Homo sapiens: one gene and its partner. The main gene of each other region encodes a partner of the protein of the gene in region 2 in a complex. Each region holds a gene or a part of one and is shown on either strand. Other genes may lie near its edges. The genes, in order: MMP3 and TIMP1. A codon is read from its position in the direction of its gene.

Region 1 (3,916 bases), on a different chromosome or scaffold from region 2:
GAAGCTGTTTTAAAATATAGCAAACTTTTGTATTTAGTTCAGGAACAGCATGGCCCATTTTGCCAATCACATCTTAACAGTTGGAAAAGCAAACATATTATCTATCAGGCTTTCCTCTAAACTTTAAATATGTTTTATAAGTTATAACTCCAGAGAAAATTTACAAAGGATAAACCTTAATATAGAAGGAATTAGAGCTGCCACAGCTTCTACACTTTTAACCTCTCAATATTTTATCTGTTGGGCTCCACTGTTTCTTCCTGGAATTCACATCACTGCCACCACTCTGTTCTCCTTGTCCTCATATCAATGTGGCCAAATATTTTCCCTGTATTTCAATCAGGACAAGACATGGTTTTTCCCCCCATCAAAGGAATGGAGAACCATAGAATACTAGTTTTAAAATGTCTTTAGGCCAGGTGCCGTGACCCATGTCTGTAATCCTAGCACTTTGAGAGGTTGAGGCAGGAGAATCACTTGAGCCCAGAGCTCGAAACCAGCCTGGGCAACATAGTGAAACCTCTGTCTCTATTTTTTAAATAAAATTTGAAAAAGTCTTTAGACATAATCTAGTCTAAAAATGAAGGCTTAAATGTGATGTATAGCCCCCTGCCAAGTGGCTATCAACTGTGTGGGCATCTTCAGTCATAGGGATCTTATTGCCACAGAGAAATCCCTTTAAACTTATTGGGTAAAATCTCTCCAATGTTTATTAAGAAACACACAAAAAATAAAGCAAAGAAGAAAATGCAAAAGAGTTATAAATGAGAGGAAGCAAAATGGGCACTTATTAAAGGTCTAATAAATGCACATTTGTATCCATCATTCTACTGAGTTCTTACTCCCAAGATGTTCTTCCCTTTAGCAAACAAATAAGCAAGTCAGCAAAGAAAGAAAGAACAAACAAAATGTGGTGATCAGGGAAGCATTGAGGAGATGGATGGTGGCAGGTGGCAAGAGGACTATAAAAGTTTTACAAAATGTCTTCCTCTGAATATGTTTAGAGTCTTGCATTCAAGCATTTATTATACACCAATAATGTGAGCAACACTTTACTTGACAAAGAAACAGAAAAGAAAGGAAAGGAAGAAAACAGAAGAGCATGAAGAGAAAATTTAGGATGGATTCTGTTCTTCAACTTCAAAGCATCTGCTAATTTGAATTTAGGGAGGAGGGGAAAAGGTTGAAAGAGAATAAGACATGTGTAGAAGACAAGGACAGAGAGAATTTCAGTCCGGTAAGCAATGTAATTCATTTCAATTCTACAACTATTTATGGAGCAGCTACGTGGGCCCATCACCCATTAATAAATTGGTTACAGAATTAAAACCAACCCAAAGGGAATATACTTCCTTCTTTTTCACAGACCCTCTTTGTTCTATTCTGCCCATGAGGTTTTCCTCCTCAAGAACCAGCAAATCCAACGACAGTCAATAGCAGGCATTACAAATCAGATTCAGAAAAATAAATCACCCCTTCTAAATTTCTTCTAGATATTATCTTTTATGTTTTGAGTATAATTGTATATAGTATAGACTATAGCTATGTATGTACACTTTCCACTTACATCTTTTATTTGCTTTTATAATGTGTTTCTTAAAATAAAACTGCTTTTAGAAGTTCTGCACAATTCTGATTTTTACCAAGTCAACCTACTTCTTCTCTCAAAAGGACAAACATAAATTGTCTAGTGAATTCCAGTCAATTTTTCCAGAAGAAAAAAAATGCTCCAGTTTTCTCCTCTACCAAGACAGGAAGCACTTCCTGGAGATTAATCACTGTGTTGCCTTGCAAAATTGGGAAGGTTGAGAGAAATTAGTAAAGTAGGTTGTATCATCCTACTTTGAATTTGGAATGTTTGGAAATGGTCCTGCTGCCATTTGGATGAAAGCAAGGATGAGTCAAGCTGCGGGTGATCCAAACAAACACTGTCACTCTTTAAAAGCTGCGCTCCCGAGGTTGGACCTACAAGGAGGCAGGCAAGACAGCAAGGCATAGAGACAACATAGAGCTAAGTAAAGCCAGTGGAAATGAAGAGTCTTCCAATCCTACTGTTGCTGTGCGTGGCAGTTTGCTCAGCCTATCCATTGGATGGAGCTGCAAGGGGTGAGGACACCAGCATGAACCTTGTTCAGGTAATTAACACTAACTGACCTGGCCAGGTGGGGAGCTTCCAGAGTAAGCTGAAACCATTCTGTGTGTCTTAAAACCCACATAGAATGCTTGAGCTTACTGTGTAGGAACAGTTCAAGAATAGAGAGTTATAGAGTGTTGGAAGTGGAAAAGGTCTCATTATCACACCATTTGGGCTTCTCCTCTTATGTAGGAAGAAACAAAGGCCAGAAATATTAGGTGTTTTCTTAAGATCACACAACACCATAGCAGTAGCAGCACTGGGGCTTAAGGCACATGAGTAACAAGTGGAGAGTGGATGAACCATATCTTGCTTTGGAACAGCTTCAGTTTTTTTTTTAATGCAACGTAATTTTAGCTAAATATTTGTGTTGCTAGTATCATATTATAAAATTTGCCATTATTTCAGCAAGCTAGAGAAATACTCCAAATAGATTAAGAAGTGAGCAACTGCAAAAACTTACTATAAATAGATAGCTATAGTAAAAATTGTAAGAGTGACCTAAAAACTATACTTATTCTGTTAGAAATATCTAGAAAACTACTACGACCTCAAAAAAGATGTGAAACAGTTTGTTAGGAGAAAGGACAGTGGTCCTGTTGTTAAAAAAATCCGAGAAATGCAGAAGTTCCTTGGATTGGAGGTGACGGGGAAGCTGGACTCCGACACTCTGGAGGTGATGCGCAAGCCCAGGTGTGGAGTTCCTGATGTTGGTCACTTCAGAACCTTTCCTGGCATCCCGAAGTGGAGGAAAACCCACCTTACATACAGGTAATGGTTCAGAGGGGTTTTCACATAAGATTGGAATTTTATAAACTATATCATAGGAGAAAATAGCATCTGCTTCAATTTTTCTCCTACAGGATTGTGAATTATACACCAGATTTGCCAAAAGATGCTGTTGATTCTGCTGTTGAGAAAGCTCTGAAAGTCTGGGAAGAGGTGACTCCACTCACATTCTCCAGGCTGTATGAAGGAGAGGCTGATATAATGATCTCTTTTGCAGTTAGAGGTAAAAAAAAAAAAAAAAAAAAAAAAGCAAAACAAAACAAAACAAAAAACACATGAAATGTATCCATTCATCTATCTGGTGTTGTTGTACTGGAAAAGGCTCAAAAGGGATCCTTGTTACATATCTTTCCAATAAATTTTTTTCCTACTAGAACATGGAGACTTTTACCCTTTTGATGGACCTGGAAATGTTTTGGCCCATGCCTATGCCCCTGGGCCAGGGATTAATGGAGATGCCCACTTTGATGATGATGAACAATGGACAAAGGATACAACAGGTTAGTTACACATCTCTCAGAATGATTTTGGCATTAATTTTTTTATATGTAGAAATCTGTTAATAACCAAGAATGCTCAAGAAATGAGATGTTCTGGATTTTCCAGTGGATCAGAGATCAGCAGAATATATTTTTGTTTTAATTATTATTGAAAATATTTTCAGATGCTTTAACAGTTTTCCTATATTGGTAAGCACAATATAGGAAATATCATTAAGTATTTCTTTAATGACTGGATCTTTGTGATCTAGGGGTAACCATTATTAAGAAAAATTTCTCATATCAAAATACAAACATTCAAGGGATAGTATATTGCACTGAATCTACATTAAAATGTGCTCTGGATGTTACTTATGTAATTTCCTCCATTTACTTCTTTACTCTTCAAACCAGAAATAAGAATTAAATTTCAGAAACTGAGATTCTCTTTTTTTTTTTTTTCTGGCTGAGGCATTATTTTAGTACTTTTAGGTTAAAAGAATTTTTATGGGCT
Region 2 (3,916 bases):
CTCTGATCATCCTCAATACCTGATCATCCTTGCTATCTGACTGGGTTCTTCATCTTCCACCATCCCCCAGGTGATGTCTGATTCCCCTTGGCCTGCCTTCAGCAAGAATCCTGTTACGTCGGTTTAGCCAGAATCCCCCTTACCCCTGATGTTTCTTCTTAGTAATTTCCACCCACAGACCCTCACACTGCTCCTTAGCTACACATTCCCACTGGCCCATGCTATATTCAGTGTTGAGCCCAATCTCTCCCACCGACTGCAAGATCCCATTGCAGTGGTTCCTATACCCATCACCATGGTCCTGAATATGGTCTTCCTTACTGTGTTATAACAAGTATCACTGAATATTTTTCTGTTTAACAGGAGATCAGGAGTACTAAGGGGCAGGGGTTAAAATTTTAAACAGGATGGCCAGGGAAGGCCATCCTGAGAAGGTGACGTTTGAGGCAGCCACCCATGTGGATACCTGGGGGGAAAGTGTACCAGGCAGAGGGAGCAGCCAGCATGCAGATCCTGTGGTGGGCTTGGGCACAGAGTACTCAAGGAAGTGTGAGGATGCCAGTGTGGCTAAAGCAGAGGAAGTGCAGGGGCGAGTGGAATCATTCTAGAGGTAAGTGCCATGGTGAGCCCCACTGGACTGAAAGGGAAACCAAGGCAGAGTGTGTGGGCTGAGTGGGGTGAGGACTCACCGAGGTCGGAATTGCAGAAGGCCGTCTGTGGGTGGGGTGGGACACAGGTGCAGGCCCTGCTGGGGGCTATCAGCCACAGCAACAACAGGATGCCAGAAGCCAGGGGCTCAAAGGGGGCCATGGTGGGTTCTGTGGGGAAGGGGGATGTCAGGCAGGCCCCGGCCCAGCTGATCTGCTGACCTGGGCAGGTCATCCACCCCATCTTGCCCCGGGGCAGCCTATGGGGGGGATTAGGGGGCTGGATTTGGGCTTGAGGGGTTGGTAAGCTTAGGGATTTTAAGGGGATTGGGGAGCGCAGAGGAATTTAGGGTTTAGAGAGTTGGGAGAGTTTAAATTATTGAGGGACTGAGTGAGTTGCGGGGTTATGGGGTTGTGGCACTTGGGGGAGAAGGGGGCTGAGGAAGTTTGAGGAATGAGGGGATTGGGGAATTCTGGAGGTTGAGGAGTTTGGGGGTGAGGAATTTGGGATTGGGGGCTGGAGGAGTTTGGAGACGGCAGAGTTTAGGGGTTGTGTATATTAAGAGATATAAGAGGCTGGGGGAATTTAGGGAGGTTGAGGAATTTGGAGGAGGTTGGGGGTTTAGGGAGCTGGGGGAGTTTGGAGGTTGAAGGGGTTGGGGGAATTTGGGGGCTTAAGGCAATGGGGATACTTGAGGAATTTGAGGGCAAAAGAAGTTTGGGAGCTGGGGAACTGGGGATTGGGGAGCTGGGGGAGTTTAGGGAGCTGCAGGGGTTAGCGGTGGGTATTTAGGGGGCGATGAGGGAAATTTCGGGATGAAGGAATTTGCGGGGGGATTTGGAAAGCATTTGTGATATTAGGGGGTCATGGGTTTGGGGGAATTGGGGGCGGATGTCAGGGGTTCTAGGGAGTTTGGAGCCTCGGGGTTGGGAAAGCAGTTCCAGCCTCCGACCCTCTTCCCCCTAGACTAGCCCAGGGTCCTGGTACCCGCAGGCCAAGCTGAGTAGACAGGCATCTGGCACGGGAGTGCACGGGCCTGGTGGCCAGCACCCAAGCTGCAGCCCAGCTCCGGTCCCTGCTGGGCCACCCCGGGCCCTGCTTACCTCTGGTGTCTCTCTGGGCGCTGGATCTGCGGCGATGGCGGCAGGGCCTGAGCGCTAGAGGATAAATGTCCACGCTAGGGGCGGGGGTGGCAGCGGGTGCGGAAACCACAGGCCTCCAGGCTTCCTGGATGCATTACTCATCCACCCACCATCAGTGCAGAAGCCAAGGGGCGGGCCGACGAAAGGAGATACACCCTCCTCCTCTCCCACCCGCCTCCTCTCCCTCTCCCTGGGCCTCGCCCGGGCCAGCCACCTCCCCCACCTCCACGTCAGTCACTATTCCTTCCAAGCCGCCTCAGCGGAGAGCTTAGAGGCCGCATTTCCCCCGGCCCAGTCCCCTAAAGTCTCCAGAATCTATCCAATCACCCACATCCCCCAAGCTCCCTATGACTCAAACCCAAATTAGTTCAGCCCTTCAACATTTATTGTGCATCTACTGTGTGCCAAGCACACAAAAATCCCTTGTTTTGTATGTCTGACATGCTGGTGAGGGGTGGCAGAGAGGAAACAAATTAAGTAGCAGCAGTGGAGGGAGATAAGGCAGGTGAAAGGGGAGGAATACAAAATGGGGAAACTGAGGCACGGAGTGGTTAAGTGACTTACCCAGGATCACAGAGTCAATACATGGCAGAACTGAGACTGGAACTCAGGTGGCCAGGAGCCAAAGCCAGGGTCTCAAATAACACAGGCAAATAGCCGGCATTTATACAGCACCTACTGTATACCAGGCACTCAGCATAGTTTATCTCACTCAAAGCTCACAACAAATCTCTGAGATGGGTACCGGTTCTTATTCCCGTTTTACGGATGAGGAAATATGGGGCGTAGAGGAACTGTAGAATTTTCCTAAGATCACAGGGCATGGCCGGGATTCAAACAGAGGCTACCTGGCACCAGGGTTGTAACTCAGGAGTGGCACCGTCCTAGCAAGCAGGGAATGGTGCGGGTGAATGAATGAGCATTGGGAAGGGGGTGGCCATGAATGATGGTGAAAGAAGCAAGTGAGTGGGTCAGTAGAAAACTAATCCCCACCCCATCCTGCCCTGCCCCCTCCCCATGGACCTGTACCCCTGGTGGGGGGTGGGGTGGGGCAATCCTTGCCCACCAGCTTTCTGACAATGCAGGAACCTTCCCTGGGGTTCTGATTAACATCCTTAATTCGAGGAGGATAGATCAATAATAATAATTGTAGTGATGATGGCAGCCACTTATTGAGCACTTTCTGTGTACTATGTGCTAAAGTGTTTGTATAAATTATCTCATTCACTCACCATACTCCCTTGCTAATTAAGTTTGATTAACTCAGGGATGATAGCCCAATAACAAGAACACAACAAAAACTACCAGCAGCCCTTATGGAGTGCTTACTGCGTATCCAGCACTATTCTGGGTGGGAGGAATGTGAGGGATGAGAAATTGCCTAATGGGTACAATGTACACTATTTGGTTGATGGGGACACTAAAAGCCCAGACTTCACCACTATGTAATATATCCATGTCACAAAACTGCAGCTGTACCCTCTAAATCTATTTTTTTTTTTTGACAAGAGTCTTGCTCTGTCACCTAGGCTGGAGTGCAGTGGCGCGATCTCAGCTCACTGCAACCTCCGCCTCCGGGGTTCAAGAGATTCTCCTGTCTCAGCCTCCTGAGTAGCTGGGATTACAGCCACACCACCACCACCCCCAGCTAATTTTTGTAGTTTTAGTAGAGACGGGGGTTTCACCATATTGGTCAGATCTCGAACTCCTGACTTCAGGTGATCCACCTGCCTCGACCTCCCAAAGTGTTGGGATTACAGGCGTGAGCCACCACACCCGGCCTTCTAAATCTTTTTTTTTTTTTTAGACAGAGTTTCGATCTTGTTTCCCAGGCTGGAGTGCAATGGCAAGATCTTGGCTCACTGCAACCTCCACCTCCTGGGTTCAAGCAATTCTCCTGCCTCAGCCTCCTCAGTAGCTGGGGTTACAGGCACACGCCACCACGCCTGGCTAATTTTTGTATTTTTAGTAGAGACGGGGTTTCACCATGTTGGCCAGGCTGGTCTCAAACTCCTGACCTCGGGTGATCCGCCCACCTCAGCCTCCCAAAGTGCTGCGATTACATGCGTGAGCTACGGCACCCAGCCTAAATCTATTTTTTAAGAAAGCACTTGGCCGGGCATGGT

The links.
Region 1: the proteins of TIMP1 (region 2) and MMP3 are in contact, whole or in part, in a crystal structure (PDB 1UEA), measured with the Homo sapiens proteins. Residues at the interface, in NP_003245.1 of Homo sapiens: Cys24 (codon at 741), Thr25 (codon at 738), Cys26 (codon at 735), Val27 (codon at 732), Pro28 (codon at 729), Pro29 (codon at 726), Val52, Thr56, Leu57, Tyr58, Pro87, Ala88, Met89, Glu90, Ser91, Val92, Cys93, Thr121, Cys122, Leu156, Ser157, Pro159, Gln173, Leu174, Gly177, Glu179; in NP_002413.1 of Homo sapiens: Phe100 (codon at 2,853), Thr102 (codon at 2,859), Phe103 (codon at 2,862), Phe171 (codon at 3,309), Tyr172 (codon at 3,312), Gly178 (codon at 3,330), Asn179 (codon at 3,333), Val180 (codon at 3,336), Leu181 (codon at 3,339), Ala182 (codon at 3,342), His183 (codon at 3,345), Ala184 (codon at 3,348), Tyr185 (codon at 3,351), Ala186 (codon at 3,354), Thr207 (codon at 3,417), Thr208 (codon at 3,420), Gly209, Thr210, Val215, His218, Glu219, His222, Phe227, His228, Tyr237, Pro238, Leu239, Tyr240, His241, Ser242.

Annotation. Positions count from the first base shown.
Region 1 is NC_000011.10:102,841,661-102,845,576, reverse strand, and holds the start of MMP3 (stromelysin-1 preproprotein), read left to right. Parts: upstream 1-1,967; 5' UTR 1,968-2,030; coding exon 2,031-2,135; intron 2,136-2,660; coding exon 2,661-2,905; intron 2,906-2,997; coding exon 2,998-3,146; intron 3,147-3,297; coding exon 3,298-3,423; intron 3,424-3,916. UniProt on the Homo sapiens protein: Metalloproteinase with a rather broad substrate specificity that can degrade fibronectin, laminin, gelatins of type I, III, IV, and V; collagens III, IV, X, and IX, and cartilage proteoglycans.
Region 2 is NC_000023.11:47,580,310-47,584,225, reverse strand, and holds the start of TIMP1 (metalloproteinase inhibitor 1 precursor), read right to left. Parts: upstream 1,791-3,916; 5' UTR 1,752-1,790; intron 819-1,751; 5' UTR 811-818; coding exon 690-810; intron 1-689. UniProt on the Homo sapiens protein: Metalloproteinase inhibitor that functions by forming one to one complexes with target metalloproteinases, such as collagenases, and irreversibly inactivates them by binding to their catalytic zinc cofactor.